2 separate regions of the Homo sapiens genome follow, and region 2 is linked to region 1. A link means that fine-mapping ties the variant in region 1 to the expression of a gene that starts in the linked region. Tissue or cell type: whole blood. Region 1 holds a variant in brackets; the other region holds the start of a gene. All regions are shown on one strand. Distances are from middle to middle. Region 1 overlaps GPD2 (glycerol-3-phosphate dehydrogenase 2). Region 2 holds the start of GPD2 (glycerol-3-phosphate dehydrogenase 2).

Region 1 (15,295 bases):
ACGGTGGCTCACATCTGTAATCCCAGCACTTTGGGAGGCTGAGGTGGGTAGATCATTTGAGGTCAGGAGTTCAAGACCAGCCTGGCCAACATGCTGAAACCTTGTCTCTACTAAAAATACAAAAATTAGCCAGGCAGTAGTGGCATGCGCCTGTAATCCCAGCTACTCGGGAGCCTGAGGCAAGAGAATCCCTTGAGCCTCGGAGGCGGAGACTGCAGTGAGCCGAGACTGCGCCACTGCACTCCAGTCTGGGTGACAGAGTAAGACCCTGTCTCAAAAAATAAAAAATTTAAAAAAGAACTTTGTTTTAATGCTGAAAGAATGAAATTTAGAACTATATAAACCAAATGCTGTGGACAACATGTACCCATTTACCATTGTAAGGAGAAACGTTTTCACAATGATTACAAACAAAAAAAAAAGATTATTTCCTTCTAAGTAACAGCTTTACTAGAAAACTAGCAAAGAAGGGGACCAAAAATATACACAAATCTTTACTAACTTCTGCAATAAATGTTCAAGGAAACCAGAGGTGAAAAAATTTTAAAAAATAGAATTAGCTTATTTATCATAGCTTCAAATCCATGTTTTATAGCCTTTTAATTAAATCACATATATGCTTACTCAGGACCAGCTGCTGCATTGACATAGACCAGAGCTAGCTCTAATTCTTGCAAGGAGAACACCAGCTCAGTTGGCAAAACCTAAACAAATGGTGCTCAACTAAATATATCTGTGAGTTTATCAACTAACTGCCCACAAGCAATTAATCTATCTGTAGGATTAAATATCAAAGTGTGTCTTGTAACTCTGCACTCTGTCTTATAACTAGTTGTGCTATACTGAGTGTTATAGTCTGATAGAAAAAAAAAGCAAGGTGCTATATCATTTTAATGTTGCAAGAAATTGACTCTGACTAAAAGAATTAAAGAAGGCTTCAGTGAAGACAGGATTTTGGAGAAGGGTCTTGAAGGGGAAAAAATTTGGAGGGGAGTGAGTAGGGAACGTTATAGAGAAAGACAATTGGTGGAGAAAGGGGAGCATCATGGTACGTTCTAGGCATACAAATAGTTATCTCGTTTGGCTGGAGATGATGTACAGCTAGAAATGGTGTTTAAAAAGAAGTCCAGAGGGAAGAGAGAGGAAGACTGTGTACACGTGAAGTAAAATATTTCTATGATATCCTGTTGGCAACGGGGAGTAGAGGCTGTAGATTAAGGAAGTAAGATGTTTTGTCTAACGTTCTGTAAAGACTGTTCAAGTAGATTTTTAGTGTTGAAGCTTACGAAGACAGAGAGACCAATTAGAGGGCAATGAAATAGATCCCATGTGAGAGAAGAGCCTGGTTTAAGGCAACATTAAAGAGTGCAAATCTAGAGACTGATGTTTTGCACAACTGTCTAAGGACAGCACTCAATTAGACAGCATGACAAGACCTGACAACCGATTACAGGAGGCAGCAGGAAGAGACTGAACACAATAAGTGGTTTTAGTTTGGGCAGCTGGAAAATGACCCCAAGATTTCAATATTAAGATCTAGAAAGAGAAGCAGGTTTAAGGAAGAAGAGAAGCTCAGCTTGCAACTAAGAAAATTTGAGATCTTGACGGAACATCTACTCAGAAAACAGCACAGATGAATATTTGGGTCTAAAACTCCCAAGAGTAATAGGTACTTGGGAAAATTTTGCCTAGAACTGACAGATGTAATTGCTACACAACAAAATGTACTTACTGCTAGCAAACAAAAACTAAATTTGCCACTTCTCAAAGTTTGCTGACCTTTGTTTGTACCTGACTGCTGCAACTTATCTGGCTCAGATGAATTCTTAGATGTCCTTGTAGGGCTCCCATTATAGACAGTGACTTTTAACAAAGAACAACTCCTCACATCCTATTTCATGTAAGTCCCTGAGTGCATCCACCACTTCTACCTCCTCCCATTCATAGGCAAGGCAACTATGCACAAGCAAATTTATTCCAGAACCAGATCGCACTTCCTGGCCTCTGAAATCTCTTTAAAAAGTACTCACTCTCCTACTCATCTCCCTGTCTTCTCTCTTCCAGAAGCCTTACTTATCAAAATACAAATTTAGCATAAGTAAGAATCATGCAAATGGGCTGGACCAGTGGCTTATACCTGTAATCCCAGCAATTTGGGAGGCCAAGGCAGGAGGATTCTTTGATATCAGGAGTTCAAGACCAGCTTGGGCAACAAAGCAAGACTCCATCTCTATTAAAGAAAATTTAAAAATTAGCTGGGCATGGTGGCGCACACCTCTAGTTTCAGCTATTCAAGAGGCCAAAGTGGGAGGAATCATGTGTGCCCAGGAGGTCAAGGCTTCAATGAGCCATGATCATACCACTGCACTCCAGCCTGGGCGACAGAGCAAAACCCTGTCTTAAAAAAAAAAGAAAAAGAAAAAGAAAAAGATTCCATGCAAATACATTTGTCACTCCTCTGTGGAATAAGCCCTGGGTCCCTTTGTCAGAGGCGTGTGAACCAGAGGAACTCCATCTTGAATAGGAGCTGGGTAAAATAAGCCACCCCTTGTTTAGCATATAATCAAGAAATAACCATAAAAATGGGCAACCAGCAGCCCTGTGTGTATGGAGTAGTCATTCTTTTATTCCTTCACTTTCACTTTATGGACTCACCCTTAACTCTTGTGTGAGATCCAAGAACCCTCTCTAGGCATCTGGATGGGGACCCCCTTCCTGTAACACCTTCATGTTTACAAAAACTCTCCTATCTTTCTGGTTTCTTATATAGAAACCTCAATTACCTTTCTAATCCCCATGCTCTCCATTAGTTTAGAACTTCTCAGGGTTTTGATTCTTATGCCAGCATAGAAGTAAGCATATTTCTCTCCATCCCTTACAAGCATGACCAATGGAGGGGCGGAGAGTACAGCTCAAAGATCAATTACAGAAGAGTAATTTCAACGACCAGCCTTGCTGTCCTCGGGGCATGCATTCTCCAGCAAGACATAAAGGCATCCCATATTGCACTCCCATGTTTATTGCAGCACTAGTCACAGTAGCCAAGATTTTCAATCAACCTAAGTGTCCATCAACAGACAAATGGATAACAAAAATGTGGTACATATACACAATGAAGTAGTATTCAGCCATAAAAAAGAATGAGATCAGGCCGGGCACAGTGGCTCACACCTGTAATCCTAGCACTTTGGGATGCCAAGGTGGGCAGATCACTTGAGTTCCGAAGTTCGAAACCAGCCTGGCCAACATGGTGAAACTCCGTCTCTACTAAAAATACAAAAAAATTAGCCAGGCGTGGTGGTGGGTGCCTGTAATCCCAGATACTCAGGAGGCTGAGACAGGAGGAAAATCACGTGAACCTGGGAGGTGGAGGTTGCAGTGAGCTGAGATCACGCCACTGCACTCCAGCCTGGGCGACAGAGCGAGAGACTCCGTCTCAAAAAAGAAAAGAATGAGATCATTTCATTTGCAACAACACGGGTAAAACTGGAGGACATCATGTTAAGTGAAATAAATAAGGCACAGAAGGACAAATTTTGCATATTCTCACTCATTTGTGGGAGCTAAAAATAAAAACAAATGAACTCATGGAGACAGAGAGTCAGAGAGTAGAGGATGGCTACCAAAGGTTGGAGATGGTAGTGAGGTTGGGGTGGGGATGGTTAATGAGTATAAAAACATAGTTAGAATGAATAAGATCTGGAAGTTGATAGAACAGGGTGACTGCAGTCAACAATAACTTACTGTACATTTAAAAATAACTAAGAGAATGTTCGTAACACAAAGAAATAAATGCTTAAGGTAATGGATACCCATTTACCCTGATATTACTGTTACTCATTGCATGCCTGTAGCAAATTATCTCATGTACCCAAAAATATGTATACATACTATGTACCCAGAAAAATTAAAAAGAAAAAAGAAATTAAAAATAAATAAAAGCGATCCATGCTCTTCCAATCACCTACACTGAGAAATCCAGATGTACAAGGCATTTCAAACATTAAATAAAAACCCCAAGATGTAACCTAGAGGTAGCCCTTTAATCACTAAGCCCTTTACCTAAGCCTTTTGTGGTCCAAAGGTAGCAAATGCTCCTTACACTTCATCTGTGCAGCCACCTGCTCCTGTAGCTGTGCATGCAAAACCCACTCCTTCAACTATTTTGAGTCGTGTCACACTGTCACACCCATGGAAGGCACAACTCAGAGGGCCAGGCCTCACACTCGCATACAAATCCAGTGACTTATTGAAGAAAAGTGCATGAGTCTTACAAAATAAGCATATAGAACCTCATCAGAGAAGGTCCTAGCAAACGGGTCTGTAATCATGGATAGCTTGACAGCAAGTCCACAGTAAAACAGAAGAAGGAGTGAGCTCAAAAGCCTCTTCCCTCCCAGCAGCACCCTTTTAACTATAAAAGTCAAGATCACTGGGTGGCTTGAACTAGATGTGTTTTAGCAAGCAAACCTTTTATTATTCCAATTAATGTGATAACAAATGTTTTGTACAATTCCCTTGAAGGAGGTATCTCATAGTTCAGACACACCAAACATATGCTGATACAGTGCTTACTCAGACAAGTAACAATCAAAGCATACCATGTACTACTCTTTCCCCAAGTTTTACTTTACTGTGGGGATCATGATTAGTACTCTGCCTGCAAACGCATTCCCCCCAGCCAAGCAGAGAAGGACTTACACACCTGTATCTTACACATGTGATTCCTACAGAAACACACAGAGAGCCCTCAAGTGTACTTTTTGAAAGCTATCAGACCTAAATGAACAAAACAGTCAAACAGAAGAGGCACATTAGCCTGTTCTCTGGAAACAGAGAGGAGGTCTATTCTGTAAACTGAAGGTGAATTCTCCTCTTTTGTTGTTGTTGCTTTTAAAAAGGATTTAGGCCAAGACTGGACAGGAAATTGACCCAAGGGTTCTTCACAAAAGACAATCCCTATGGAAAGAAGTGAATGTATCAAGTCCTAAGAAAACAGAAGACACTTTTATCCTTCCGTCACCTTCTTTAGCCTTTTCTCTATTATATCAAAAGCAAAAACACACAAACACAACAATAACAACCTATAGTTGTAAAGAATATATACACTGAACAGGATATCAAACAACAAACAAAAAGGCTTTTCCGAAGTCACTGAGAAAAGCATTATCCTGATAACGCAAGATAAATCAAAAAACCAAGTAAAAGTCAACAGAAATGTGTGAAACATAATCCTCAGGTTCTAAATACACAAATTTTTGGACTGTGGTGGAAGAAGCTAAAGCAACACACTCACACATTGCTGGGAAGGCATCCAGACTCTAGCTTTGTCCCTGACTTCCACACCCTATCAAAAGGCCAGCCTGCTTCCAAGAAGGGCAGGTTCTTTCACTTCCAATCCATTTATTTCCCCAGGCAATTACTGCCAGAAGGGCCCACCCCAGCCCAAGAGAAAGTAAACAATTTTAGCAGAGGAAGAGTATTTCCATAAAGAAGAATGAGAAAAAAAAAAAATCATGAAACAAAGAGAAAGCGAAAGAAAATAAACACTATATTTATATCAATTCACATAGTGTAAAGCTAGAAAATTCTGAGTCTCCCTGGGTCACCTTTATGTCAATTATATCATTTTAGAAGCAAACCAACAGTGAGAACGAGGTTGGCCCAGGACCACTTCTCAGCCTCAAAGGAGGGCAGGAGCCTGGAAGCTTGACAGGAGAAGCTGGCTAAGAAACGAGTTGAGCTAGTTTCAGGGGCAGAGTTCAAAAAATGCAAGTAAAAGGTACAAAAGAAGGAGAAAATAAGGTCAATAACTATTTTAAGTGAGCCAGTTAAAAGTCTCTGTTTATAAAAAATTTGTTGCAAACATTATTACATGGGATTTCTGATGTGTGATGGGGGGTTAAGTTTAATAATGTCATAACTGTTAATCGAGCATTTATTTCACAAAGTCCTCTAAAACAAAAAATGCATTGAAAGGGAGGGAGCCTTAGAGGAACACAAGGATACACGTTTGCACTCTAGTAGTGATGCATTATTTAAGACCCGATTTTTTACAAAATATATGCCATTTCCAAGGCAATTGCCATATAACATACTTATGCTTTCTACCATTTCTAAAATACACACTGGAACTATAGTCACAAATTTGACCCTTTTTCTTTATTTCATGAGGTTCACTATAGAATTATAAGAAATCAATGAAGCTCATTATATTCATTAAATGCAAATAACCACAGCTTAATTCATAATAGAATAGTTTCTATTATGTTTGCTTTCCATACAATTGCTATAAAAGTCATAAAGAACTATAGTTAGTGCACGCAAGTGAATTTGTATTCCATTTTAAATTCATTTTAAAAGCAAAGTTAATATATACTCTGTATCACTCCAGATATATTCACGGATTTGTGTTTAAAGTCGTACAATCCTATCTTTAATATTCCATTAAAATCTATCTCTGCCTTCTTTGCTTACCATATACATAATTGAGGGTAACCCTGAGAGCCCCAAAATAAAATGTCCCTCCCAAGTGAAAACTTGAAGCATTCCTTCACAAAAATGCCAACCCCTTGTAAAAACACAAGTCAGGTTAAGGAGCTGAGTAGATAACATGCCTAGTACAGAATTAAACAAACTTGCATTTATATCAACTAACAAGAAATGGTTGACTTAGCATGAAAAGGAGATAGCACAACAGGGAGAAAAACTTTAAATCTGCCTTGAGGAGGCAGGAATGTTATCAATGAAACACATTCATTGATAACATTCAAAAGAAGTTCATTAGTCAAACAGACCATACTAGTCCTGTGCTTCTTTCAGTCTTTCCGCCCCTTTACTAACCCTTTATTGGGTTAAGATAATGTTTGACATTCCTTTGGCAGCATAAACGCTCTTTTTACATTTTACATGCTGTTACAGAATCTACTTCAGTAATCAAAACAAGAAAAAGGCCTGGAGTGGTGGGTGGCTAACATCTATAATCCCAGACTCAGAGAAACCCAGGCAGGAGGACCCCTTGAGGCCAGGAGTTCAAGACCAACCTGGGAAGCGAGACCCTGTCTCTACAGAAAAAATCTTTTTAATTAGCTGGGCATGATGGCACATGCCTGTAGTACCAGTTACTCAGGAGACTGAAGTGGGAGGATTGTTTGAACCCAGGAATTCAAGGCTGCAGTGAGCTATGAGGGCACCACTGCACTCCAGCACAGGTGATAGAATGAGATCCTGTCTCAAAAAAAAAAAAAAAAAAGAAAGAAAGAAAGAAAGAAAAGAAAAGAAAAAGTCCTTTACCTTGCTATAAAATAAGCTGCAAATCAAAGAGTTTTAAATGTCTGTCTTAAGATTAAAACATATCAAGCCTTCCCTCAAAATTTATTAAAACTAACAAAGCCTTACAGAGTAACTACAATCATGGCTGTTGAATACATACTGTAAAATGTTTTGTAAGAAAACAAAGTCCAGGCCGGGCACGGTGGCTCATGCCTGTAATCCCAGCACTCTGGGAGGCCGTGGCGGGTGGATCACTTGAGGTCAGGAGTTCGAGACCAGCCTGGCCAACATGGTGAAGCCCCATCTCTACTAAAACTACAAAAATTAGCCAGGCGTTGTGATGGGTGCCTGTAGTCCCAGCTACTCAGGAGGCTGAGGCAGGAGAATCACTTGAACCCAGGAGGTGGAGGCTTTAGTGAGCCAAGATCATGCCACTGCACACCAGCCTGGGCAACAAAGCAAGACTCCATCTCAAAAAAAAAAAGAAAAGAAAATGTACCAATTCTTTCAAAA[G/C]TTCCTGTTGCAACTGCATTATATGCCGTTAGAAATATATTTGGGGAAGTATCTGTTGAAGATGGTTTAAGAAATCCTGAGCTTATTTTTTTAAATTATGACTGAATTTTTAATAATAATTAGTTATAGCACAATAACTTCAGTTATTGTTCAGTTCATTGTAAAAGAAAGTTCTCAATTTGAATACAGCTCTATTATAAACATCACTACACATATATTTAATGTATAAGTGGTGACTGAGAGTTATAAGAGATCAAGAAGTGCGCTGTGGTGGGAAGACCAGTCACTCTGTTTCCTTAACAGAGAGAAGATCCCTAGGAAAAAAGCTGACTAGTTTTTCCATCCTGCAGTCTTTTTTCTCCTGTAACCTGTTGAAATTTACATTTAAAATTTACTCCTCTGTACATCTAATAATCCACAAGTATAAATGGAACTACAACAAAGAGCCAAAGTACAGATACAATGCATATATGAAAAAGGAAACCTGAGACGTACTGTAGTGAAAATAATCATGTATTAGAATATTTAGCTTACTGATTACACTTCCTAAAAATGTCTGACTCACAAGGAAATAAGAATCAGATGAGAGAAACAGATTGAAGTAATTCATACTGCTAACAAAATTCCCATTTAAAGTAAGTGAAAACAATGTATTTCCTAAATGCTCCATCCCCACTCCAAAAAAAGTGAAGAAAATATACTACATTTTCCTTCACCTATGCAAAAATAATGAGGAAAGCTGTATTTCTATCTCAGTCATTTTGGCTAAAATGATCTTGGTCATAAGATCTTACTCTCCTCAGTTGAATAACGCATCCTTTCCAAACTAAAGAAAAAGATATTTCTTTTCTTCTTTAAAAGGGCTAGCACAAACCCTCATGAAAAGCATTCAAGTACTATAGTCTAGTTATTCTGCATAAGATGTTTGGTATCAACACTACAGAGCTAATAGCACAGAGGTGACAGGTCTAAAATTTAAATAGCATAAATAGAGAAAATAAAGGGTTCGACTCAATATTCCTTTTGAAGCTGTCATTGATCTTTTTTTCAAAAAAGAACTCTATAGTCTTTCCCAAAAATATATAATTCTCTATGTTGTATTCCCAAAACTCTAAATTAAAAAAGAAAATCATCAGGGGGTATTCTGGAAGGAAAGACACGCTTGTAATTCTGTCTCTTCCACTAACTTGCTCTGCGATTTCAGGCAAATCACTTGAACTTGCTGATCCTCACTCCAACTATATATGAGCTAGCCTTCAAAATGTCCAAAGCTATTTTAACTTTAAAAGTTTATTACTTTATGGTTTTTCTTCATTCAATAGATGAAGAAGGGGAAACAACCCTCATGCATTAAATGTGGCATTATCTTAATGTCCTATTTATTTAGCACTGTTAGATAATTAAAACTTGCATTCATGGTTTTATTTAATAATTATTTACTGATCATCCATCATGTGTCAGGCACTGAGCAAACAAAGAACACACACAAAAAAATCCCTGCATTCCAAGAGTTTACATCTGAGTGGAGTATACAGTTAAAAAAAAAATTCTGTATTCTTTTGGATTAAAATACTATATTTCAAGAATGTAAGTCACACTTTGGCTTCTTAAATAATATTAACCATGAATTCAATTATTGACGACTTACAGCCATCCATATGTACATGCTATGATATGGTGATGGCCTCAGGAATAATAGGAGTGACAACACTATTAATGCCTTTACTTAGTGGTCTCAGGTCCCAGTCTGTTCCTGTATGAATTCTTCCTCTCTCTGCTTCCTACAATTTTCCTGCTTCTTCCAAACTATCAGGCTGATGATAATCTTCCCTGTTTATCTTTGAGCTCACTTCTTTTTTAATACTTTAAGTTCTAGGATATATGTACACAACATGCAGGTTTGTTACATAAGTATACATGTGCCATGTTGGTGTGCTGCACCCATTAACTCGTCATTGTTACCACTGTGGTTAGAAAAATGAGAGCCAAGTTAGTTTAACTGTTTCAAATACAAGTAAATAGCTCTAAGTAAGGCTAAAGGAGCTACTTACTAGAATTTTAACACTTGGTTTTCAATGTTCTGGCTCTAACTCTTCAGGGATCTTTTTACCCCCTTCTTTTATGTGTTTCAGGTTAGTGGAGCTTACTAGAAAACATCTGGATTTTGCTGTACACACTGTGAATGAAACAAACTACCCCAGCCTCTTACATAGAGTTAAGAATGTCAGGCTAGGTGCGGTGGCTCATGCCTGTAATCCCAGCACTTTGGGAAGCCAAGGCAGGCAGATCACCTGAGGGTGGAAGTTTGAGACCAGCCCGACCAATATGGAGAAACCCCGTCTCTACTAAAAATACAAAAAAAAAAAAAAAAAAAATGTATCCGGGTGTGGTGTTGCATGCCTGGAATCCCAGCTACTTGGGAGGCTGAGGCAGGAGAATTGCTTGAACCCGGGAGGCGGAGGTTGCAGTGAGCCGAGATCACGCCATTGGACTCCAGCCTGGGCAACAAGAGCAAAACTCCATCTCAAAAAAGAAAAAAGAAAAAGAAAAAAAGAATGTCAAACCAGGTACATGCACAGAGTCCAGGCCTTAGAAAAAGAAAATTCTTATTTCAATTCTACCTCATCTGAATAGATCCACATTATCTTGAAAAAACATGGCAACACTCTCTGCTTCTGTGCTAGAAACAATTAGTATATTTTTCTGTGCTCTCCTGCATTTAAAGAAATATTTGCAGATAAATGGACCAAAAAAATCCATCTGCTGCTTCTAAAAAACTCGAAAATTCCTTGAGAACTGGCTTATTGAAAACATACCAATAGCAAAGGAAAGATTAAAATTGTAATTTCTTAGAATATAACCAAAGCAAGAGTTCCATCAAATACTCAGGAAAGTATCCGTGAAGGACCTACCCAAGTGAAGAAGACAGGAGGAGGAGCATTGGTTCAGGTAACATACATTCAACTGGGATTGACTGAATACCTGGCAGATCCCCAGCACTGTTCCAGGGGCTGGGAATTCCTCTACTCTCATGGATTGGAAAAGACAAAAATAAACATGTAAACAAACATAAAAATTAAGTATTTTGAAAGTGAGAATTACTAGGAGAAAATAAAGATGAAATAATAGGTTAGAGGATAACTGGGGTAGGCTGGACATGATGGCTCATGCCTGTAATCCCAGCACTTGGGGAGGCCAAGGTGGGAGGATCGCTTGAGGTCAGGAGTTTGAGACTAGCCTGGGTAACATAGTGAGACCCTGTGCCTACAAAAAATAGAAAAAATGAGCTGGGCATGGTAACATGCACCTATAGTCCCAGCCACTCAGGAGGCTGAGGCAGGAGGATTGCTTGAGCACAGGAGTTGGAGCCTACAGTGAGCCACGATCACACCAACCTGGGTGACAAAGTGAGACCCTGTCTCAAAAACAAACAAACAAAAAAGTCAGTGGAGAATTTTAATCAGTACAATGATACGATGAAACTTATATTTCAGAAAGAAAGGAAGAAATGCCCTAGCTGCAGTATAGAGGATGCCTTTTAGGGTAATAAGAGTAAAAGTAGAGCCTGGAAGGTCAAGGCTACAGCGAGCTGAGATCCCACCACTGCACTCCACCCTGGGCAACAGAGTGAGATCCTGTCTCAAAAAAAAAAAAAAAAAAAAAAAAAGAGATAGAGAGAGATAATGTGATAATTTAGTGCTTGCCTGCAGGAACACAACTACTCCTATAGGCACAGGCACAGCCAGGGACCTGCTAGTGATAGGATGCTATCCTTGGCATATTCAAATGACACCAATGACCCCCAGGAGAGAGAGAGGGTTGCTTTTTCATTAGGATACCATTAGCCATGTTCATAATGAGTAGATGCAAGTATAGAAAAAAGGACACAATGGGAGAGGGGGAAAGAGTTAACAAATTATATGAGAAAACAGGCAAAAATACCAACTGCAATCTACAAGATTCTATAATAGGGAAACAAATACTTTAGGGATAAACTTGAATGTAAATATGTACTGAACTTACATACTTGAAAGACTGTTCATCTCACTCAGTCTAACAGGCTAACAACAATGAACAGACAGTGTCATCTAAGAGAGCCTCTTAAATGCCAACAGAAGTCTTTTTTATATTTCTATTTCCCCTTGGGCTGGGGTTGTTTCCAGGTGACTTTTCTCACCCCACAACTCATTATAATTTGCACTGATTTTGGACCCATATTGGAAAAGAACCCTAGGTCACATCTCTAAAGGCTGACGCACCCAGAACATTTCCCACCAACTACAGGCCAGGAAGTTAAGAGCTGTGTGAAGCTTATTGACCCAGCTGAGTATAAATTTCCAACAGGCAAGAGAGACTGCATATGATTAATTACAGTTATTTATATTTATGGGTTTGAATCTTGAGGATGCCTGGCCTATCCCCATTTTATTTCATAATTTTCCCCCTATTGGAGACTGAAGAGCAAAAGTCAATTGCCTGAAGTGTTGGCATCACACTGGAAACTAAAGGGCCATGCATTTCAATTCCAGCTCAAGGAACACTCTGACTGAGCAGATGCAATTCACCAGACCCCAGTGGGCTAGGATCGTACTGTTCTCAGTCAAATCACATAGCTGATGGAATTCAGCAGAGTACATTAGCAATTTATACTCAACAGCCTCTCTTCAACCATAAATTTTGAAATAATTTTGAGATAATGTCTGAGATAAAATTGGGATAATATTAAGTAAAACTTAAACTTAATCCAAAAAATTCAGGCCATAGTTTGAGCCTCTGTTCCTACCATGAAGCAGTCAGGAGGCAAGTGACTAAGTGGCATTTCTAATAGGATTCCTGTCAAAACGCCAGGTTCAGTATCAGTCCAATGACCTTCAGGCCTGACCTCACCTAGTGCACTTGAGCTTACTCCTTCAGTCATTCGTCTGGCAGCTGCCAGTTTTTCAGATTATACTATGTGGCAGCCAAGTGCTCTGCAGAGATTACAGAATGGGCAGTCAGCAACCTGAGATGTCAGTCTACCCTACGATAGTCTCAGCCTGAACAAAGCCATCAGACTTCCCTGGACTTCAATGTCCTTACGTAAAAGATTGAGATCTTCTATATGTTCCCTTTTTCTTTCTTTTTTTTTTTTTTTTTTTTTTTGAGACGGAGTCTTGCTCTGTCGCCAGGCTAGAATGCAGTGGCATGATCTCAGTTAACTGCAACCTCTGACTCCCTGGTTCAAGCGATTCTCCTGCATCAGGCTCCCAAATAGCTGGGATTACAGGCATGCGCCACCATGCCCAGCTAATTTTTGTATTTTCAGTAGTTTTTAGTAGGTTTCACCATGTTGGCCAGGATGGTCTCAATCTCCTGACCTCGTGATCCACCCACCTCAGCCTCCCAAAGTGCTGGGATTACAGGTGTGAGCCACCGCGCCCAGCCTATATTCCCTTTTTCATGGTACTGCTGGACCCATAACCCTTGCCTTTGGCACTCCAAGGCCTTCTGCCATTTTTACCACCTAAACCGGACAGTAGGCGTAAGTCACTCACCATGCCAAATGACTGCCATCAACATCCCCTTAACCCACTCTGACTTGAAAAAGCAACACTTTCATACTGAAAAGAATCATAATAAAGAAAAGTCTAAAAAAATAAATGGCACCCTTAAATAAGTTAGACATTCTAGAATTTCTTCACCTTGTAGGAATTAATCCTTTCTGAGTTAAGTACACTCTGGATAGAGATGGGGTAACGGACAAGTAGAAAATTAATTATGAAGAGAACAAAAGTAAATAAAACAGTATCTTTGTGTGTGTGTATATATATATATATATATATTTCTATTTTAAAGTATATGTACATACACACACATACACACTCACAAGTGAAGGTTAGACGAATATACCCCAAAATGTTAAAAATCTCATCTTTGAATGGTAGTATTATGAATCATTTTTATTTTCTTCCTTGTGTGCATTATTTTCTAGATGTCTAAAATAAGCATGAATTATTCTTGTAATTAGAAAAAAATGTGGAATATACGTGTGCATGCATATAAGAGAAAGAGACCTGAAAAAAAAGAATTCCAAAGAGCACCATGCAGATGGATAGCTGACATTTGACCAAATCCCATATCATCTGACCATTACTTGAGTGATTTTCCTGTTATACAACTTTTTCTCATCTTTAATGAACTACAGTAAAAGACCCATATAGAAAAAGAAAAAGAATACTTTGCCTTTACAATTTATTAGGAATCTTTGAGTAAGAACTGGAAAATGTCACAGAATTATCTGCCTCATTCTAGAAAAATCTCCACCCTAACTAAAATGAATTTGCCTTGAGCATGGGACACAATAACCATTTAAGCTTGAGTTAAGCTGCACCTAAACTCGCCCTACATTTTTAGTTATTGCACATTACAGCCCCTCGGGGATTTGCAGTTTTAATGCAACACTGGAAATCCCAACAACAAATCAAACCAGAAACTGCAAAGCTGATCAACCTTCCTGGAATTGGGTGTTTCCCAAATTTCAACTCCATAACTACAGAATCTCTTTAGTTAACACACCCAGGGGGCCCCTCCACTGTGCCAGGCCCTAAAGGAAGTCCACAGATGCACAGAGAAGAGACAGACCATCCTAAAATGGGGGCCAACATTCCCTCTCTCTCCCCACCCTGTGATAATTTAGTGCTTGCCTGCAGGAACACAGCTACTCCTATAGGCACAGCCAGGGACCTGCTAGTCCTAGGCTGCTGTCCTCGGCATATTCAAATGACACCAATGACACCCAGGAGAAAATTCAGTGCAGGAGGCAGCCAGTGTAGGAGACAGAAGACACAGACAGCCCTGGGTGAATTCCAACTTAGCCACTTACTAGCTGTGTGACTATGAGCTTTAGTTTCCTCATTTATAAAATCTCTTTTGTCACAAGTTATACTGAGAATTCGAGGTAATATAAGTAAAGCATAAAAATACATCTGCTATCCAACAACTCCCACTGCTAATACATAACATTACTGAGCATCTACAATAAGCTCTGGCCTTTTCACACATTGTCCACATTTGCACGTGGAATTGGGATATAGAAGACTATTGTTACGAGAGAGCAAAAGCAACCAACCAATTTCCATCGGGCCACAACCCTGCTTTGGCCTAACCAGCACTTTGTTCTGAACAACCAAGTACACTTAACACTCACAGGTTGGGGAAATAAATCCCATTGTTTCCCTGAAAAGACACAGGCAGGCGGCCTCTTCTGGCATATCTCTAGCATCTTTCCCCCAAATAAACATTCACTCAAATAGAATGGACACTCTTATTTCAGAGTGTTCTATCAAAAATAAACCCATATCAAGCCCAACATCTAATGCAGATCTATTTCTGGGTCACAGATTACCTGTTACAGAGGTCAGAAGGAGGCAAGAGGATTTTCCCTTCAGATCAGGCTCTAATCACATGGAGTCCAACGTTTATACCTCTATCTCTAGTAGTCTGTCAATTGGCAGATTAAAAATATTCCCTG
Region 2 (15,295 bases), 28 kb after region 1:
CTCGGCCTCCCAAAGTGCTGGGATTACAGGCATGAGCCACTGCCCCCTGCGGAATCTATATTTTTTAGATAAGTATCCCAGCTACTTAATGGCGGATGGGGATGGGGAAAAGGGGTTAATACTAGCAAACACAGTGAAAGAAAAAAGTGAAAATATACTTGTTATGATAGGTCCTATGAGCATAATCCTGAAGAGAGATAAAAGGAATGTGGCAGCCTCTAGATGTGAATGCTATACCTGGAGAGGCTGAGAGCAAGGAAACCCCAAACTCCAGGTAATAAAAGGAAAATCTAGGCCAGGGTCCAGAGGCAAACAGAACCCAGTGGCCATGACTGGCTTCCTTTTAGGCAGGACAAGAGAAATAAACATTTCATGCTCTCCATGGACTTCAAATTCATCCAGTCCAGCCACCTTATTTGACAAGGAGAAAAGTGAAAGGTCCAGACAGTGACCAAAGCCACACTTGAGTGGCTATAATGTGGCTGCAGGGATGCTCAGAAGTAGGCACTGCCCACCTTTGACCTAGCCCACATAAATGGTCCCCAATGCGCTGTCCCCATAGAATCCAACGCCTTTGATAAGGGGGACAAGGTAATTTTTGTAAGTCATCTTGTTAGGAATTCATTTTCCAGATTCTTTCTTAAGAGATTGGATTAGGTGGGTAAGTAGGGGGAAGGGAGAAATTGGTGAAGAGAAGGAAGCCCTGGTGTCCTGACAGAGGTGCTGAGTCCTCAGTGGACATTAAGTGGCCTCCTTATTTGTAGATTCCTCCACTGATTTTCTTCAAGGATTCCTTTTATAATGTCACTTCGCCCCTTCCCTCTCCTAAATATCCTTAAGATATTAAACCTCTCAGCACCTTGGGAGGGAAAAAAATTTTGAAATAAAAATAAAAAGATTAAAACTGCCAAATGTGTAGGGAGGGAGATGCCTAAAAAAAGATGAAGCTTAAAGTATCCAGTTGAATAGATTACCTGAAATACACCTGCCTGTGTGGTATCTGGTGTCCAATCACACCCAGCACACTCTTATCACTTATTGCTGAATTGGGGATGACTGAATTATGGGGCAACCATTAATGAACAACTGCTTACTAGGTGTCACCCACATGAAAGGCACTTGGATTAGGCATGTGAGGTCTACAAAATTGTGTAAGATCCAGCATGATCTTCCATAGGAAAGAAAATTATGCATGCTTGCAAATAATTACAGGAGACAAGCATCTATAAGGGAATTATGAGTAGCATAAAAAGAGTAGCTAAAGGGTTTAGAAAATATACAAGACATTTCTGACTGGGGCTGTGAGGGAAAATGTCATAAAACTAGTAGCCAGGGGTCAGGGCACTCAAGGTTTGTTAGGATTTCAAAAAGTGAAATAGAAGGAAGAACATCAGAATAGGGACAACAGTAGGGAATTCCTACTTTTATATTTAGGGAATTCCAATCAGTCCAATATGACTGGATCATAGAGAAGATAAGGACAGCACCTTAATATTAGGGTGAGAATGAAGGAGTCTCTGAATTAATTCCAAGACAAATATTTAGAACGTGATCAAATAGGGCAGAGTAATCCATGGAAGCATGGAGCAGAGAGAGTGACATGATCAAAGCAGTTTGGGCATTACCACAATGAAACAAAACATCCTTTCTTTTTATTATTTTTTATTACTTTTTTATTTTTTTGAGACAGGGTCTTGCTCTGTTGCCCAAGCTGGAGTGCAGTAATGCAATCATGGCTCACTGCAGCCTCGGCCTCCTAGGCTCAAAGGATCCTCCCACCTCAGCCTCCTAAGTAGGAGACACGCACCACCAGACGCAGCTTATTTTTTATTTTTTGTAGAGACAGGGTCTCACATGTTGCCCAGGCTGGTCTCAAACTCCTGGGCTCAAGTGATCCTCCTACCTTGGCCTCCCAAAGTGCTGGGATTACAGGCATGAGCCAACACTTAGCCAATATCCTTTCTTTTATTCAGTTAAAATGAAAAGAAAACAACTTTTGAGAACCTAGTACTCTGAACTGCATTATTTTCATCACTTTTGAAGTACACTTAGAAGCTTATTTTATGTTTTCTTGAAATCTTGACCAAAGTTTTTCCTAATAAGTTTACCCTGAACATAAACTTTTGTTCCACATAAGTATATAGCTATCTAAAGTTTCTACTTGGCCTTGGTGGTCATCAGCAGATACAAGTAGCAAAGCATTCTAAGCATGTCACCCCATTGTCACCAAGTAATACTCAGAGGTTATCTCATTTGACAGTAGCAGCTTCTAGAAATCTCGATTTCAGAAAACAGTCTCTCTGTCATAGCTTGTCAGGTTTGTTTTTCCCACTATATTAAACCCTTTTATAGAAGGATATATGTGCACAATCAAATATGAGATTCCACAGAGGACATACTAGTATTCAAAAAACATAAGGCTTGAAAAATCTAAATCAAACAATCATTGTTCTAAAGTACCCAGACTTTGACAGTATCTCACTGTCAAAAATACAGTACATAAGTAATTCTTTCATTTTGCCTGAATAATTAAAAGATGTACCCAAATAATGTCTTTAAGTTTTGTCAATACATATGTAAAGAAAACTTATTCCTCTAGTCACAATACTTCTGACACCAAATGTATGGGTTTTCCACACCAAGAAACTCTCTGTCTAGGGGCACCAACTAGAATGTTTTACCATTTAACTCAATCTGACACTAACTGCCCAGAGTTTGTGCAGACGCCACAGGGTAAGGGCTCAGTCCCATGAGACTGCCCTCCACTTCAGATGCCAGTCAAAAATAGTGGGCCCCGGGATATCCACACTTCTGTTAGACTTAGCTACAAATCAGGGGTTCCTACAACCCCATCCTCAAATTTGATAATTTGCTATAGTGGCTAACAGAAATTTACTTACTTTTTTATCTTTTTTCTTTTTTTGAGACAAGGTCTTGCTCTGTCACTCAGGCTGGAGCGTAGTGGCACTAACGCAGCTCACTGCAGCCTTGACCTCCTGGCCCCAAGAGATCCTCTCACCTCAGCCTCCAGGGTAGTGAGGACTACAAGCATGGACCACCACACCTGGCTAGTTTTTTCTTTTTTAATTTTTTGTAGAGACAGGGTCTCTCCACGTGGCCCAGGCTGATCTCAAACACCTGAGCTCAAGTTATCCTCCTGTCTTGGCCTCCCAAAGTACTGGGCTTACAGGTGTGAGCCACCACAACAGGCCTACTTACATATAACAGTTTATTACAAAAGGTATTAAAAAAGACACAAATCAACAGCCAGATGAAGAAGTACACAGGGCAAGAAATGGGAGAAGGGGTGTCCTCTCTGGGCATGCCTTCCTTCCAGCACCTCCATGTATTCACCAACTCAGAAGCTTTCCAAAATTTAAGGTTTTTATGAAGGCTCCATGATGTGGGCATGATTGATTAAATTATTGTCCACTGGTGACTGACTGGATTTCCAGCCCCTCTCCTCTCCCCGGAGGTCTGGAGTGAAGCTGAAATTCCAACCCTCTAATTACATAGTTGGTTCCTCTGGCACCAGCTCCCATCTCCATCCTGAAGCTATCTAGGGTTCTACCAAGAGTCACCTGTCATCTCAGCAGTGTAGAAAAAGACACTCATCATTCCAGAGATTCGAAGGGTCTTAAAAGTTCTTTAGTCAGAACTGGGGACAAGTATCTTTCTTACTATATCACAATATGTCACAATACATTTGTACTTGAGAAGGAGAGACATCTATTAACCAATTTTTCCCACTAATTTTGTGAACTAATTGAACCGAAGCTTGACCTAAATAAATCAGAAATCATGTTTTTGCTGCATAAATCAGAAATTTGGTTTTGAAAGAACATAAAATTCTCTACTGAAAAATAGGAAATAAGAGCACCGATATGATATAGAAAGAAATACACAACTCAAAGAACTAGTAAGAGTCTCTAACGAGAGATCAAATCCCAGAACACAAGCCAAAGGGAAAACAAAAACAAACAAACAAACAAACATGGTCACATTCACATCAGGACACAAATTAGAATTCTGGATGCATTCTGACCACAATCATTATCTAAACATCCTCAGGTATTCAAACCATCAACATCTCTTCCTTTCTTTTTCTTAAATGTTCCTGAGATCACTCCCTGGTCATATAGTACAGGAAGAAGTCTATTCTAAAATTGTTAGAGATTTCCTGGCTTGCAGTCACATTGGCCCTTGTCTTTCTCACTTGGAGTTGAGTTTGATCATATCTTCCTCATACATTTCTTTCACGCATCATGTCAACAATTCTAAAACAAAGAAAAGTAAAACACACTTTATTAGTTTCTTCTTCCCCTAACATACCACTTCCAAGTTTTCTTCTTATCTCAAAAGTCTTAAGACATGATGGAATTATTTAAGTATTTTGATGAGCAACTAAAACTTACTTAATAATATCTTCTTAGTTTAGTTCCATTCAGTTCTTCTCTATCTCCCAAGTAACAATTTTGAATTTAGCGGGTTGAGGGGTCTCAACCCTGATGACTAATAATTTTCTCCTTATACTCCAGGTAAAAAATATATAAAATATACCCCATTGTCAAAACTGAATAGAATAACTGGCAGGCCATCTGACACTTTATTTATTTATTTATTTATTTATTTTTTGAGACAGATTCTCCTTCTGTCGCCCAGGCTGGAGTGCAATGGCACAATCTTGACTCACTGCAACCTCTGCCTCCTGGGTTCAAGCAATTCTCCTGCCTCAGCCTTCCTAGTAGCTGGGATTACAGGTGCCCACGATCATGCCCGGCTAATTTTTGTATTTTTAGTAGAGACAGGGTTTTGCCATGTTGGCCAGGCTGGTCTCCAATTCCTGACCTCAGGTGATCCGCCTGCCTAGGCCTCCCAGCCCAAAGTGCTGGGATTACAGGTGTGAGTCACTGTGCCTGCCTGGCTTGTTTTTTTTTTTTTGTTTTTTTTTTTTTTTTTTTTTTTTTTCTGAGACAGTCTCAAGCAATTCTCACGTTTTGGCCTCCTAAGTAGCTGGGACTACAGGCACGTGCCACCATGCCTGGTTAATTTTTGTATTTTTTTGTAAAGATGGGGTTTCCATGTTGTCCAGGCTGGTCTCAAACTCCTGGGCTCAAGCGATCTGCCTGCCTTGGCCTCCCAAAGCAAAGTGCTGGGATTACAGGTGTGATCCACTGCACCTGGCCTATCTGACACATTTTTAAGCAAGTGTGTTAAAGGTGGACAAGAATGAAGAGTTACCATTTTCACGCCAATCCTGAGCTTTAAACTTCACAGACATAGTGACAAGTATTGATTTCTTGCATATGCAGAATTTTACTGAAGATTTCCCATATAATTTTCAACAGAAAGATCATTTTTGAAAGTACAAGATTATGTTGGCTTTTTCATACAATGAAGTACACAATAGCAAACATTCCTAAAACAAAGGTGATCTTTCCAATAGTCTTCAGGACATGTTAAGTCTCTCTGTTACTGAAGTGGCATTCCCTTCACCAGGAAGCTGTCTCCAACTACTTGAGCCAATATTAACCTTTTCCTTCATAATCACATCAGTTCTGGCCAACATCCTACCACTGGAAAAATGATTGTACGAGGTCTTATGTTGGTCTCCAATTGTTTTCCATCTATGTTTTACCTTGTTAAACAACTGTAAGCTTCTCAAAAGAGGTTAACTATTTTTTTATTTAGCACTTATTACACAATATAATGCTGCACAAGAATACAGAAAATTTCATTTAAGAAGACTAGTGTTCATATATTTGATTTCTAGTCCTCTTTCTGAAGTGTTGTTTCTGCACTTAGGATAGCCCCATGAGTCCAGGTGTTGACAAACAGAAAGAATCAAGTTTTGGAAAACCTAAACAGAAACATCATCACATTCAAAAACTAAAACTGAGAAATTAGATACTGATCTGAAAATTGCTTCCCTTCTCTAATAACCATAGCTACCACTAACTCGCCTCTCCTCTCCCCATCCCAACACACTCAACTAACCGAAAAAAATGTACGGATAATTCATGCACAACATGCAAGAATTCTTTGCCCAAATTTTCAAGCTAACTACATTCTTTGCCCATATTTTCCTACTTGAGTATAAGAAGGAAAAATATAGGATGGAAGCTAGTCTTTTGAAGTCTACTACTTGCCAGGTACATTGCTAGCAATTTTACACACGTCATAGCATTTATTATCCATATTTTGCCAATGAGACAATTGAGGCTGAGTTTTAAAAGATGACCTAAGGCCAAAGTCTTTGGCTCCCCGCTCCACAACTACCCTCAGCTGGAGTTTGTTCCACAGTTCAGTCGCTCATTGAGAAAACATTTATTGAGGGTGTATTACAAGCTAGTCACCCCTCTAGGCATTGGAGGTCACTCATTGAGAAAACATTTATTGAGGGTGTATTACAAGCTAGTCACCACTCCAGGCATTAGAGTTTTGAAAGTATGCAAGACAGAACAAGCCCTGCTACTCTCATAGAACTTACACGCTAGAGATGAAAGAAAACAACCAAACAGGATAAGTTCAGAGTTATAATAGTTTGCCAACATGAGTTATGCACAATAATCATCAAATCTTTTAAAATATCTACAATGAGATTAAATAGTTACAAAAAAAACTAAAGGGGGTGGTAACACTCACTAACAATTGGTAACACTGTGGCCCTTTTGTCAATTCCTGAACCAAGCCATTGCATCTTTGAATGAATCACAAGGGAGAAAGAAGGAAGCAGAGCTCTAATGCTGTTTAGAATTTCTTTATAAAATAAAGTGACTCTATAAGCTATGAGAATGGACAGTTGCAATGAATCCATTGTTGGTTCTCAAACCCAAAACCCCATATTTACCCATTTATTCATTAAAATATTGCTGTATTATTTCACGAGTTGATTTGTAAAAGTCAAGGGAGTGTTGTAATTTGACATAACGCCCCTGTGAGAAACAGAGGGGGGTTTCAACATCCACATCACAAGGTTCCCCAGACTGCACACGGTCTCCATTGGGCAATGGCATCCAGATGTCATGTGGTAGCCAGCAAGAACTGTAGGACTGGGACTAGAGTGGTCAGTAGCTACGAAGAAGTGCCTGGGCCCAGTGTGACAGCTGCCAGCACCGTCCACACGCCAAAAAGAAACTTCACATCTCTTTAAACTTGGAACACATGCAAAATACTAACAGTTTTGTTTTAGCAATAAAGACTCCCTGTCACTTACTAACTTCCTTCCCTCACCTATTTATACAAGTATAAGTTGACTAGCTGCTATTTCTATAGCTGCCTCCTATGATATTTATAATGTGTTGTGTGTGATTTGGGTTGCCCATGTCACTAACACTTTGCAAGAATTTGTGTTTGTAAATTACTCTGGAACTCTTCTGGGAGTGAATATTCCACTGCACAAGGTGGAAGCCAGACTAGAGACCATCTGCTAAGAGCAGCACTTCATTCACCCAGCTACACCTTCCTGCCAAAGCACTCTTTGCAAATCTATTTTTGCTGGTAGAAGTTACTACATAGGGAGTGGAGGCTGTTTTAAGTTATCAGTGTGCACCTTCCATTTCCTCCTAGGACGGTCACACGCCAGCAGCTGAGTTTCTCAAAGAAGCCTCAGCCCTCCTCCAGACTCGTTCTCACTCTTGCTTCGGAAGGGAGCAACAATCCTTATCAGACTAGCCGCATCTACAAGCTAAAAGTTTGCATGAACTTTCAATGGGGTACCAACCCTCGCCCCAAAAGTCCTGCCACTTTACTATTTTACAAATGCCGCCTCCAAAACATAAACAACGAAACCCTAGAGAAGAGCGAATCCATCTTCTGCTGGTGGGAAGAAATTCTAAATCTTTCCCGTTTCCCGCCACCACCTACCGCCAAGACTGGAGTCCCAGAACACTCGCCCGGGTCAGAAAGGGACCACTCCCCCCCTAGAATACTAGAGGCGGGGGAAGGGGTCTCCCAGGAAGCACACACCTGAGATAGATCCTCACGCGCGAGGGGCCAGCGGGCAGGAGCACCCAGTTCCTCCAGCCAGGGTGGAGTCGGCCTCCCCCCAGAATCAGAGCCTCGGCCCGGGTGCTCCCAGCGAGGCGCGCGGGGCTGTCACTCGAGGCGGGCTGGGCGGGTGTAACTCGAGCGCCGGGCGGGCCGCGCCCCCGCCTTCCCTCTTCCCGACTTCCTCCTCCCGCTCCCGCGCCTGCTCCCTCCCGGAGGCCTGACCAGGGCGGCGAGGCCGCCACCTCCTGCCCGGATACCTCGGGCCCAGGCTCCTCCGGCCCAGCGGGGAAACGCGGAAGTGGGGGCGGGAACCGGGGCCGGGGTTGGCGGGGGTGTGGGAGGGAAAAGCCAACAGCGGGCGGCGAGCGAGGTGGTCTCCGTGGCCCAATGAACGTGACTAGACGGGGACGCGGGTCCTGCCGCCGGGTGGGGTCGCGCAGCGCCACACGCAAGGGCCCTCGCCCCTGGCTGCAGTTCCTGCTTTGTGCCTCGGCGATGCCGGACTCCAGACCTCCGCCCCGCCTTGCCAGCGGGCTGGCGGACTGGAAAGCCTGAGCTAGGCCAGGCTGGGGAAGACGGTGGCGGTGTCCGATTTCCTGTGCCCTCGCCCATGCGGGCCGCCCTGGCCATCTGCCTGCGGGAGAGGAGACACTCGTCCGCCGGCACGCTGGCGGGGCTGGCTTACCTGACGACTTCTCGTTGTCCGCCCTGGGATCTGGCTTCTCCTACTCTGTACCTCCCGGCCGGCAGGCTTCCCTAGGCCTACAGACGTGTCCAGGAGGCGGGCGACCCTGCGACCCCGCCGTCAGAGCCCAGAACCCTCGCCCGGCTCCCCCGGCGGGCTCTGGAGGCGCGCCAGGCCTCCTGGCTCCCCGCCTGAATGTCAGCGCAGGGACCCGCAGGGAAGACCAAGCCCAAGCTCCAGGGGGTGGAATGCTGAGCACAGGTTCCCCAGACCCAGCCTCATACAGGTGGGGGGAGGCGGAGAGCCCCGGCAGCTGAACAGCAGGCTTCCCACTTGCAACCCCCCGCCACCCAAAAAAAAAAAACGACCCTGCCCACTGAGCATGCCCAGCTTACTTGTTGGAACTCCTAGGGCTAGACAAGCCCAAGGGGACCTAAGGAAGGCAAAGTTGGGGCTCAAATGGACCCCACTTCTTTAACAGCTTTGCTCCGAAGACCTCTGGGTGCTGTACTAATAACCTTTCTATCGTGGTATTGGAAAATATCCAGGAGATGGACGGAAATGCCTTTCCAAAAGAAGGAAGAAAATTAGTGTGAACCAAAAAGCAGTGGTATTTTTTTAAATAAAGTATTAAGTCACTCATTTAATGTCCTTAAATACCGCAGAATTCCTGTAGTTGACCCAGAGGAATGCATATATTTATTAAATCCCAAACTCAGTAACTTCAGGGAACCATCCATAGTCCACAGAGGAGCAATGATTCTCACCCTTGGACACATTAAAATTGGGGGGAGGGGGCAGGGAGGGGTGGAATGCCAGATTTCCATCCCCAAGTCCAATGAGTCAGTCTGGACGTGGGATCTGCAAGTCCTTGTATTTTAAAACTGGCTCTAAAAGTGTAGTCACTGGAGCCCGCAGCATCAGCATCACCTGAGAACTTGACAGAAACTGTACTCCAGTGACCTGATTCATAGACTCTGGGGCTGGGGCTGAGCTACCCAGATTTAACAAGCCCTTTGGGTAGTTCTGATGCACATTAAAGTTTGAGAACCACGGTTTAAAAGCTCCCCCAGTTGAATCATGAGCAACCAGAAAAAGGAAATTGTAGTTGAGAAAAGAAAAATAGTTCAGAGCATTTGAGCAATGTGAGGTATGCAAAATTTATCAGGCCCAGAGAGACCTTGAATATGGGACATAAGTTGCACCCCCCACACTCATGCTCAGAGGCGATTGTTTAAAGGCATTTTGTTCATGACTGACTACCCAACCATATCTTCATGTTCCTGGAATTTGTGATACGAAGAACAATCTATAGACAATTAATAGTTTGTTTTTTTATGTAAATTATTGGTAAACAATTTAGAAACTGCCTCTTCTTTTCCTTTAAAAACTTCCTTGTGGCCGGGCAGGCGCAGTGGGTCACGCCTGTAATCTCAGCACTTTGGGAGGCTGAGGTGGGCAGATCACGAGGTCAAGAGTTCAAGACCAGCCTAACCAACATGGTGAAACCCTATCTCTACTAAAAATACAAAAATTAGCCGGGCATGGTGGCAAACACCTGTAATCCCAGCTACTCAGGAAGCTGAGGCAGGAGAATCACTTGAACCTGGGAGGCAGAGGTTACAGTGAGCTGAGATGGCACCACTGAACTCCACCCTGGGCAACAGAGTGAGACTCCATCTCAAAAAATAAATAAATAAAAACTTGTGACTGGGCAACATCATGAGACTGGTTATATTAAGTATGCCTCAGTTCTTTTTTCTTTAGTTTGACAAATCAAACCAATATTTTTATCATTTTTTTCAAACCCTCATCATTTATCTAGAAATGCAACATGTTACCCAGAAAAGGAATAATCTGGTTGAGTTGGGTGCCAGTCCTGGATTTCCTTCTCACTGATTATCCCAGATCAGTTCAGTGCTTGGGAAATGGGACCATCAGTTACTCACTTTTGTACTCTAGTGCCTAGCATAGTGCCTGAATATAACTGATGTTTAAATGTTTCTTGATTTGAAATGAATGCTTAGGTGAGCGATCTGGTCCAATCCATACTATGTCAGCTGATTATTTTCCCCACTAGTCCTAGTCACACTGCTAGCTAGTGTAACCGCCCAAGGGGTTCACCTTGCCCGCTGCCTAGACAGAGTCGATTGATCAAGACAAGGGAATTGCAAGAGTAATTCACGCAAAGCCAGCTGTGCGGGAGACCAGAGTTTTATTATTACTCAAATCAGACTCCGGAGCATTCGTGGAGCGGATTTTTTAAGGACAACTTGGTGGGTTGGGGGAAGCCAGTGAGCCAGGAGTGCTGATTGCTCAGGGATGAAATCATAGGGAGTTGGAGCTGTCTTCTTGCACTAAGTCAGTTCCTGGGTGGAGGGCCACAAGGTCAGAGGAGTCAGTTTATTGATCTAGGTGGTACCAGCTGATCCGTCAAGTGCAGGGTCTGCAAAATATCTCAAGCACTGATCTTAGAAGCAGTTTAGGGAGCGTCAGAATGACTCCTTAACCATAGTTTCTAATCTTTTGTGGCTGTTAGTCCTACAAAGGCAATCTAGTCCCCAGGCAAGAGGGAGGTCTGCTTTGGGAATGGGCTGTTACCACCTTTGTTAAAACTATAAACTGTAAACTAAGTTTTTCCCAAAGTTAGTTCAGCCTACGCCCAGGAATGAACAAGGACAGCTTGTAGGTTAGAAACAAGTTGCAGTCGGTTAAGTTAGATCTCTTTCACTGTCTAGGTCATAATTTTGCAAAGGTGGTTTCACTAACCACCTTTTCCTGAGAAAAGTCAGGAGCACTGGACGTGATTCCTCTTGCCAAATTTGGGGCCCAGAACAACCAAAGGACAGCAGAAAGATGTTGGCATCTGGTGGGATTCAGGAAGGACACAGAAGGAAAAAGGTGTGCATGAGAGTGGGGTCAATTGGCACAGACAAGGAAAGAAGCTTCACCTGATCAGCATACAATTTACTCTGAATCTTCTTTTTCAAGACCGTGCACCTCTGCTCTATAGTTCCCACTCTCCCACTCTTCACACACACATCTAATCTCAACTATTGACTTGAATAAAATAAATAGGAAACTGTTGTATAGTAGATAATTTTCTCCAATAAAACATTGCTGACTTGCAATTAGAGCATAAGTTATTTAGAGCATATTTTCAAAGTTGTTAATTCTTAAAAATGCACAGCCCTAAAAAAGAACAAAATCACTTTGTAGCAACATGGATGCAGCTGCAGCATATGGATGCAGCTGCAGGCCGTTATCCTAAGCAAATTAATGTAGGAACGGAAAACCAAGTATCACATGTTCTCACTTGTAAGTGTGAGCTAAATCATGGTTTCACTCAGACATAAAGATGGGAATAGGCACTGGGGAATCCAAAAGGAGGGAGGGGGACAGGGGCTGAAAAACTTCCAATTTGGTACTATGTTCAGTATGTGGGTGATGGAATCAATAGAAGTCCAAACCTCAGCACCACACAATCTACCCTTGAAACAAACCTACACATGTAGCCCCTGAATCTAAAATAAAAATGGAAATTAAAAAATTTTTAATGAATATTAATTTCAAAATGTAGAGGTTTATGATCATTCTTTTAAGATTTTACAGATACTGGCCGGGCACGTTGGCTCATGCCTGTAATCCCAGCACTTTGGGAGGCCAAGGCAGGAGGATCACCTGAGGTCAGGAGTTCAAGAGCAGCCTGACCAACATGGTGGAACCTTGTCTCTAGTAAAAAATACAAAAATTAGCCAGGTCTGGTGGCACACGCCTGTAGTCCCAGCTACTCGGGAGGCTGAGGTAGGAGAATTGCTTGAACCCGGGAGGCAGAGGTTGCAGTGAGCTGAGATTGCGCCATTGCACTCCAGCCTGGGCAACAGGGCGAGACTCTATCTCAAAAAAAAAAAAAAAAAAAGATTTCACAGACACGCAGACACGTATAAAATAAAACACTATGCCCTATTTATTCCATGAATCTTTTCTAAAGAGAATAAAATATAATAACAAATTTTTCTTTCTAGCCTAATACATAACACTTTAAAGCCTTTTTTGACAATTCTTTTTATGAGTATCTAAGTAGCTTTCTGCCTCCCTATCTCTAGCCCTGTGTCTTGCTCCTAATATAACAAGAATTCCACTGAAAGGGTTTGGTTGCTGATTAGAGTATGTAACAGGAACACAATTTCCTATATGCCTAAGCACTTTCTTTTCATTATTAAGATACTTTCATGGAGAAGTGGGAGATAATCATTAATTTAGGAATTGCTCTCAGTAATTACTATGCCAGCTCCACAGACAATATTGAAAAAAAAAAGCAAAAAACAAAAACCTTCCCTTCTCAACAAACACTTGCTACTGCTTCTTTTTTGCTTATAGTATTAAAACCAAATCAAACAAATAAAGAGGTTTAAAACTAAAAGTGTAGGAAGACTAAGTGGGGTTATGAGAAAGGAAACAATGACCATAACCAAATTTTAAAACATGAAGTAATTATTTCAGCAGAAGGCAATCTAGTGAAGACCAAGACCTCAGGGAAGTGAGAGTCTTAAGTGTTTCTCTTCTTCCCCATAAGAATGACTCAGCATTTGGAATGAAACTATGTTTACTGTCTTTCAGATTTCTGGTGTCAAATAACTTTGGTGCCACCTAACTCCTTTCTCCTGTGCCTAAGAAAACTCAAGGACAGTCATGGGTTTTCATCCTCATATGGCCACAAAAATCTGAAAAGCTTTCCCTTTTTCACCCATACCTGTCTTACAGAAGCCTAAGTTGGTCCACCATTCATTTATCTTGTTTTTGTTGTGTTGTCAGACGAATTTAGGTTGTCACCTATATCCTGGTGTAACAAAATGAGCAAGAAGTTTTTTCCTTCCCAAACTTGGAGAGTAGGCTACCTGCTACTAAGACATCTTAAACGCAGCTTCTGGGATTGACCTTTTCCCACCATGTGGGTACTTTCCAGTGATGAGTCTACCATGTACTTTTAATGATCACCACATGTCTAGAGCCAACTATTTTAGTCCTTGCCCATTTCTAGAGAAAAACAAATTTTTCCCATAGCCAGGTAAGTGTTCATTGGTTACCAAAGCTCAAAGTAAAATGTATGGAATACTAGAACTGAACTGGGCTGTAAATGTTAACCCCACACTTTCATTTTCTAAGAAACAAAACCAAAGCTCAGCAGTATTACAACATTAGCTAAACATGGAGCCAAGACTAAAATGAGAAACTGCTTGGTATAGAGAACACTGTGTGAGCTCAAGTCATCTCTTGTAAGTTCTTCAACCATGGTCTGGTTCTCTAGCTTTCCAGAACCTCGGTATCCTTATCAGTGAAGGATGTTAATATCAAACATTCATATGGTGTTTACTTTATCTCAGGCACTAGTCTTAACAAGGTGATGTAATCCTTAATCCTCAGCATAACTATGTAAGTATTTTGTTTTTCTGTTTTTTTTTCTTTTGTTTCATTCCACCAAATGGGGAAATTAAGGTACAAACCTATTAAGTAATATGCTGAAGACACCACACCTAGCAGATGGCCAAACTGGGATTGAGTGGGATAATATTTGTAAAATGCCTGGTATATAAGTTGTCAATAGAACTATTACCAATGTCAGTTTTCCTCCCTAGATCACAAGCATATCCTGCCAAAACACTTTGTTCTGAGCTTTGTATGTTCACATATTTTTTTCATTATATTCTTTAATTTGGGTACAGTTTAGGTAGTTTACATGAATTAGAAAGTTATGTTATATATGCATCTAACATAATCGTATCCATTGTTAACAATAGTTGCAAACACTAAGAAGTTAACCAAAAATTAAAGACTACAAGTTTACTACTTACCAATAAACAAAACTAATATAGAGTATCTAAAAGATTAACAGTGCTGTCCAAGAAAATCTTAAATCCTTGAGCAGGATCAGACCAATCACTTTGGGATCTTAAGATAAGAACAGCTCATTTGGTAGATCTCCACCTACTTGATACACGAATTCTTAACAGCAGAGTTATAGACATCTAAAAATATCCAACAGAAAATCTTTCCATGTCAGTGATTCTGAAAGAGTTAGAATCAAGAATGAAGTGAAAATATATGATCCTTGAAAAGATGAAATAAAAATACTAAATATATTTTTAAATGGGTACTTTAAGTTTTATTTCTGCTTTATAAGAACTGGGAATGTATTCTTAAAATAAATGTCTAAAGCATCAATATAAAGTGGCACCAAGAAACTTACTTAGATTTAAAGGCCTGAGGGTAAAGGAAATGTGTATTCCTTCCCTAAACAGGAATCCACTTTGTCCCTGGGACAGGGTAGCACTGAAAACTAGCTTTTATAAATTTTCATAATGTAAACTCAATAATGTTGTCTCTGGAACATAGCCACCTATTTAATAACAGCAGGAAAGTGTGGGTAAGCAGAAATGTCCCAAGAAACTCTTGCAGAGAACATGAATAAGTATTAAGTTCTGTTGTGGGAGCTGAAACAAAATAGAGAATTCAGCTTTTCAGAGTAAAGCTTAGTTATCATCCTAGTGAAAGAGGTAACTGAACCAATGGTAAATAACCCAAGAAACTGGAGATTTGTTCAGTCCCACATCTGAATAC

The links. PIP is the estimated chance that this variant, and not a neighbour inherited with it, causes the effect.
Region 2: GPD2 starts here. The variant in region 1 is fine-mapped to the expression of GPD2 in whole blood (TOPMed, PIP above 0.99).

Annotation. Positions count from the first base shown.
Region 1 is chr2:156,457,319-156,472,613 of GRCh38, reverse strand. The region is part of intron 1 of GPD2 (glycerol-3-phosphate dehydrogenase 2); the gene reads right to left. Among named protein-coding and RNA genes, the nearest start is that of GPD2, 29 kb to the right of the region's middle. The variant G/C (reference allele first, on the strand shown) is at 7,786.
Region 2 is chr2:156,429,187-156,444,481 of GRCh38, reverse strand. It overlaps GPD2 (glycerol-3-phosphate dehydrogenase 2), which reads right to left and starts at 8,103. Exons shown (of 17, transcript NM_000408.5): 1 at 7,969-8,103. RefSeq lists silencers at 7,982-8,391, 8,832-9,001 and an enhancer at 8,542-8,591.